Linked DNA regions of Homo sapiens: region 1 is linked to region 2. The links come from fine-mapping of genetic effects on gene expression. A gene starts in region 2. The other region holds a variant in brackets. All regions are shown on one strand. Distances are from middle to middle. Region 1 holds the start of FAM30C (family with sequence similarity 30 member C). Region 2 holds the start of LINC01193 (long intergenic non-protein coding RNA 1193).

Evidence for each region.
Region 1: its variant is fine-mapped to the expression of LINC01193 in testis (GTEx, PIP above 0.99).

The regions. Positions count from the first base shown.
Region 1 is chr15:21,001,602-21,004,515 of GRCh38, forward strand. It overlaps FAM30C (family with sequence similarity 30 member C), which reads left to right and starts at 1,676. Exons shown (of 4, transcript NR_145444.1): 1 at 1,676-2,158. The variant T/A (reference allele first, on the strand shown) is at 1,714.
Region 2 is chr15:20,939,204-20,942,117 of GRCh38, forward strand. LINC01193 (long intergenic non-protein coding RNA 1193) reads left to right here and starts at 1,235. Exons shown (of 5, transcript NR_040094.1): 1 at 1,235-1,563. It overlaps MIR5701-1 (microRNA 5701-1), which reads left to right and starts at 1,049; the gene lies at 1,049-1,130.

The DNA.
Region 1 (2,914 bases), 62 kb after region 2:
GGCCTGTGCTGCTCTCAGCAGACAATAATAGAGTTGGTAAATCTTTTCATAACCACCTGAGGTGTGAGTGTGGCACTATCAGACCTGACATCCACACTAACAATTGGTGGGCTCTCTCTTCTTTTGCATGGGGTCACCTACAATTGGAACTATGGGTTTGGAGTCCTGACAGTGACCACCACGGGGCCTTTCTTCTTTTGCACTGGATGCTAACTCCCTCTGCCCCAGTGCCCAGCATGCACTTTATCCTGCCTGCTGCTCACTGACCCTTGGAGTTCTGTTGAGCTGGGCTGCAGTGTTGAGTTAAACACCACACCTTTTATAGATTTAGCTGATTGAATTCAGAAGCATTGATAATTTATTCACATTGAGAAACAGGAGTGATTGTAGGTGACTCTGCCTTTGGTGCATGTGAGAAAATTTTTCTCTTGTCACCACAAATGTTTCTTCTTCAGGAAGAACAGGATAAGGAATCCAGAGAAGTGCCCCAGAGGAAACTGTTTCATGGAGAGGAAGCCACAGGGCTGACAGGAAACCAGACCTTAGCCTCCCTCTGCACCTGCCCTGAGGCTGGCTTTTGTGCTCAGTGGGTCCTGAGTGCCCCCAGCTGGTCCTGTTCCCTCTTCAGGGAGGCTTGTTTCTGGGCTCATACTGACATTTTTTCTAATTGTGTTCCCCAAAATGGAGACAGAGTAAACCGTGAATCCATGCATCTCAGAGAACAGAGAACAGCAGAATTACACCCACTGATCCCCCCCACACACATTTAGGTAAATCTTATTAAAACTGCTGAAAAGGAAAGACAAATAGAAATATACGCAGGCAAGTGGAGGTGAGCAGAGGGGGCATTCCTTCCAAAAGAACAGAAAAGATGATGACAGCATTCTTCTGGTTAAAACCTTACAAGCAAGAGGAAAGTTGATGGTATCTGTAAAGTGTTGGATGAAAAGTCAACCCATTATTTTATAACGCATGGGTGTTCTCTAAAAAGTGAAAAAAAATTCTATTTCTCTTTGACAGCATGAGGGTTTCAGTGAATCCAGGCCCTCATGAGACCAGTGAAAATTATTTTGAAAAATTACAGGGTTTGGAAAGGCTCTAACAACATAAAGCAAGTGAAGAAATATTTATTCAAGAAAATCTAGAAAACTCAGTAAGGCCAGTCATCATACTTGATCTAAGATGCTCTTCCTTCCTTCCACATCCCAGCTCAGCATGATGTAAACTCCACTGCGGACAGATGCAGCCAAGAAGACAGGTCACCTTCTACCAACTCCCACCAGAGGAAACTCTTCCCCAGGACCCAGTACGTTGGCCCTCTGACCCTGCACACAGCACATGATGCTGAGGTTCAGTGCTGAACAAGAGCTACTGAGAGCCAGAGATTCACTTCTTCCATGGAGCCCCACTCATGGATGGAGGCTCTGTCCCGGGTCCAGTGCCACTGGGAACACTGGGTCTCTGGTTTCTAGCTCTGTCCTATGGCAGAGGTTCCACCCCACAATAACCGAAGTGCTGAGAAGGTGGGAAGCTCCTGCCCGACCCTCCACTGAGAGCTCAGCTCCTAGGCTGAGGAATAAAACAGCTCAACTTTGTCTACACCTGCAGAACCTTGTTTAGGAGCTCTGTCCCAGGAGAGAGGGGGCAATGGAATTCAGTCATAAAATATGATCCTTAATTAGTCCTAAAAATCCTAACTTCAGTAACAGCAGA[T/A]TGTGGACAAATTGAAAGCCTGCCAGTGCTCTCAAAAACAGTGGATGGTGTGGTGGAAAGCCCTTGGAAGGAGACGGGTGGATGCATGGGAGATGCAGGCTACACTGCAGGGCTGCTGGCTTGCAGGAGAGAACCGAGGACAAGGGAGAGCTGGGGAAAGTTCTCTTGTGGTTGAAATAAATGCCAGACACTCTTCAATGGAGCCCATGTTTGTTTGGTTCAGTCTGTGAAGTAATTCAAACCTCAGTGCATGATTGAAAATAGTACAATTTTCCATCTGCAAGTGGCAGAGCTCAACATCTGGGTCTGGTCAGGAGAGAGACAGAGAGAGCCCAGCCCAAACCACTGACACCTGGGGTTGACAGTGCTGCTTACAGATGTGTTCCTTTGATCTTTGAGACTGGTTTCTCTCACTTAGCATAATGCCTGGAGTTCAACTGTAATGGTTTGTGAATCGATCATTTGATATTTTTTATTGCTGATGGATTCAATTTATAGATGCTTCCTAGTTTTTTCACCTACTCAAATTTTGAGACATTTATGTTATTTTTCATTTCTAACACACACACATGTAATATCTTGAATATTTGAATAGAGGTTTTGTGTGAAAATAAGATTGTATTTCTCTGAAGCAAAATTCAAGAGTGGGATATTTAGGTCATGTGTTAAGGGCATGTTTGATTGCAGAAAAAACTAAAAATTATTTTCCCGAGTAGCTGTTTCATTTTGCATTCCCATTAACAATGTCGTAGACACTAGGAACTTGGTATGCTCATCAGCATTGGTATTACCTGTATTTCTTCTTAATTTCAGCCATTCTAAAAAGTGTATAGTGGTGTCTCATTGTGGGCTTGATTTGAATTCCTTTAATGGAAAATCCTGTTAACAGCCTGTTTATATGCTTATGTGTCATCTGCACATCTCATTTGATGAAATGTCTGCACAAACCTTTGCCTATTTTATCCATGGGTTGTTTCTTTCTTATTTCTTTTTCACAGTTGAGTCTTGAGAGTTCTTATTCTAATTAAATTGGTGGTTATGTGATTTGAAAATAGTTTCCCATCTGAAACTTGACATTCATGTTCTTATAGTTACTTGAGTAGAAAACGTCTTTAAATTTAATGAGTTTCAACTGATAGTAATTTCATTTATTGATCATTTTTTACATATTATATTATATTATATTATTTTATTTTATTTT
Region 2 (2,914 bases):
GCAGAAGAGGATCGCGTAAGTCCAGAAGTTTGAGACCAGCCTGGGCAACATAACAGCAAGACTCAGTCTCTTTTTAAAAAATGGTATATTCAATTTGGGGAACATGCTACAAATCCTCAAAAAACGGGTACAGAAGAAACATACTGCAACACAATAAAAACCACATGAGAGACCCCCACAGCTAGAATCATATGGAATGGGGAAAAATGGAAAGCTTTTCCTCTAAGATCTGGAACATGATAAGGATGCCCACTGTCACCACTGTTATTTAACATAGTACTGGAAACCCTAGCTAAAGCAATCAGTGCAGCCCCTGATATGGCCCCCAACCCACCCTGCCCCCTTGCAACCAGCAGTGTAGCCCCCCCGCAATAGCGCACCCAACACACCCAAACCGCCCCGCCTCCCCGAACCACGGGCATTGCAGCACCCCATAGCACCCTCAACCTGAAACCACCACCCCCCCGCAACAGCCGTGCAGTGCAGCCCTGGATAGGACACTTAGCCCACCTCACTGTTGCCAGCAATACAGTCTGGGATAGTTTCCCCAACAGGCTCCCCGCCGGGGGCAGTGCAGCCCCGGTTAGGGCCCCCAAACCACCCCCGGGTGCAGGCAGCACAGCCCCAGATAGCACACCTAACCAGCCACCCAAGGTGGGCAGTGACGCCTGAGATAGGGCCCCCAACCCGTCCCAGGCCAAGGGCAGTGCAGCCCTGGATAGCGCACTTACCCCGACGCTTTTCTACACTCTGGCCGGTTGCAGTGTCCATCGCTGCCACCAACCGCAGCGGGCAAGGCAAGCCAGCGAGGCAAGGCGAGGCAAGCCGGCGAGGTGGTGAGCCAGGGAGGCCAGCCACAGCCCGGTAGGCTGCAGCCTCCAGCATGCAGTGGCTGGCACCTCCTACTCCAAGCTGGCAATGGAGCAGCTATGAAGTCAGATGCCGACGAGGCTGGAATAGTGCAACTCTAGCTCTTAACATGCTTTATATACCGAGATTATAAACTACATGTTCTGATTGGATGAGAGGAAAACACTAGGCCTACTCTGATTGGACTTTATTGTCACGTTCTGATTGGTTAGCCTAAGACTTGTTCTGATCCAATCAGAACATGAAAATAACGTCCAATCAGAGTAGGCGTAGATGTTTCTCTCATCCAATCAGAACGTGAAGTCCGAGAACCAGGCCTGCACAACCCCCCAGTATATAAGGTATGCTAAGGGGGCGTCGCGCTGTTGCAGGCTATCGTGTGTTAACCTGTACTTCTGCCGCAGAGTTTGGAGAAAGCGGCAGCAGATTGTGCTGCCGCAGGCTGGAGCCTGGAACCTGGAGCCCTGGAGCCTTGAATGGTGTGTGGTGGCAATGGAGAGAGGCAGCTGGCAGTGACAGCTGCTCCGTGCTTGGCTACAGGAAGGAAAGAAGGAGAAAGCACCTACCATAGGCTGGAGGCTAGAGCCTGCAGGACTGCGGCTGGCCTCGCTGGCTCGCCTCCCTGGCTGGCCTCGCTGTGGTTGGTGGCAGCGACGGATACTGCAGCTGGCCAGAGTGTAGAAAGGCAATGGGGTAGGTAAGCTATCCAGGGCTGCCCGCGGCGGGGGCTGGTTGGGGTATTATTCCAGGTGTCACTACTTTGGGTGTACTAGAGTGTTATTTTGGGCGTCACTGCTTTTAGGTGTGCTATCCGGGGCTGCACTGCCCTCAGCAGCGGGTGGGGGGGGGGTTGGTGGGGGGCGGGTTGGGGTCACTATCTTGGGCTGTATTGATGGCAGCAGTAGGGCTGGTTGGGGGCGCTATTGGGTGCTGCACTGCCCGCGACAGGGGCCGGGTTGGGGCTGCTATTGTGGTTGCACTGCCGGCGGCATGGTGGTGGGAGGGCTGGTTAGGGTGCGGACTGGTGGGGGTGCTTACTGGTCGGGCTTCATTGCCGACAGCGGGGTGGGGATGCTATCTGGGGCTGCACTGCCCATGGTGGGGGCTTGTTGGGGGCGCTATGTGGGGTTGCAATGTCCATGGCAGGGGAGAGGTTAGAGGCAGTATCAGGTGCTACACTGCTGGTGGTGGGGCGGGGCAGCGGTGGGTGCGGGTAGGTGCTTGGAGGGTGCGGTTTCGGGCGCTATCGGGCCAGACTGCCCATGATAGAGGGCAGGTTTGGGTGCGCTACTAGGGGATACACTCCTCACAGCAAGGGGCGGTTTGGGGGTGATACCCGGCCGGTGGCAGGCGGGGTGGTGGGGTGGGTTGTGGGCACCGTTCGGGGGCTGCACTGTGGTCAGTGGCGGTGGGGCGAGTTAGGTGCTCTATCAGCTGCTGCACTGTTTGTGGTGGGGGCTGGGTTGGTGTGCTATCGGGGACCATATTTTTGGCAGCGGTATACAGGTTAGGGGTGCTGTCGGAGGCTGCACTGCCCATGGCGGGGTGCGGGTGGGGTGCACTATCCAGGGCATCATTCCCCCTGGGTGGGGGACAGTTGGGGGTGCTATCTGCTATGTAGGGCTGCACTGCTCGTCGTGGGGAGGGGGTTGGGGACCTTAAGGATCCATGGCTGCACTATTGACGGCATGGAGCAGGTGGCCGTGCTCTCCGGGGCATCACTGCCCGCAGCCGGGGGTTAGTTGGAGGTCCTATCGGTGGCTGCATGGCCGACGGCAGACGGTAGGATGGGGGAGTTATCTGGTGCTGCGACGTCCGAGGCAGGGATGGGTTGGGGGCGCTATTGGGTTTTACATTGCAGCGGCGAGGGGCGGTGTTGGGGGCGCTATCCCAGAGCCAACATCAGGCAGCGGATTAGGGGCGCCATCAGGGGCTGCCTTGCTGGTGGCGGCAGAGCTTGCAGCAACAGGGTCTCCAAGGAAGGAGCCTTCTTCCTCTTTCTGGATTTCAGACTCTAAAAGGCGATCTCCTCCTGCTCCTGCTA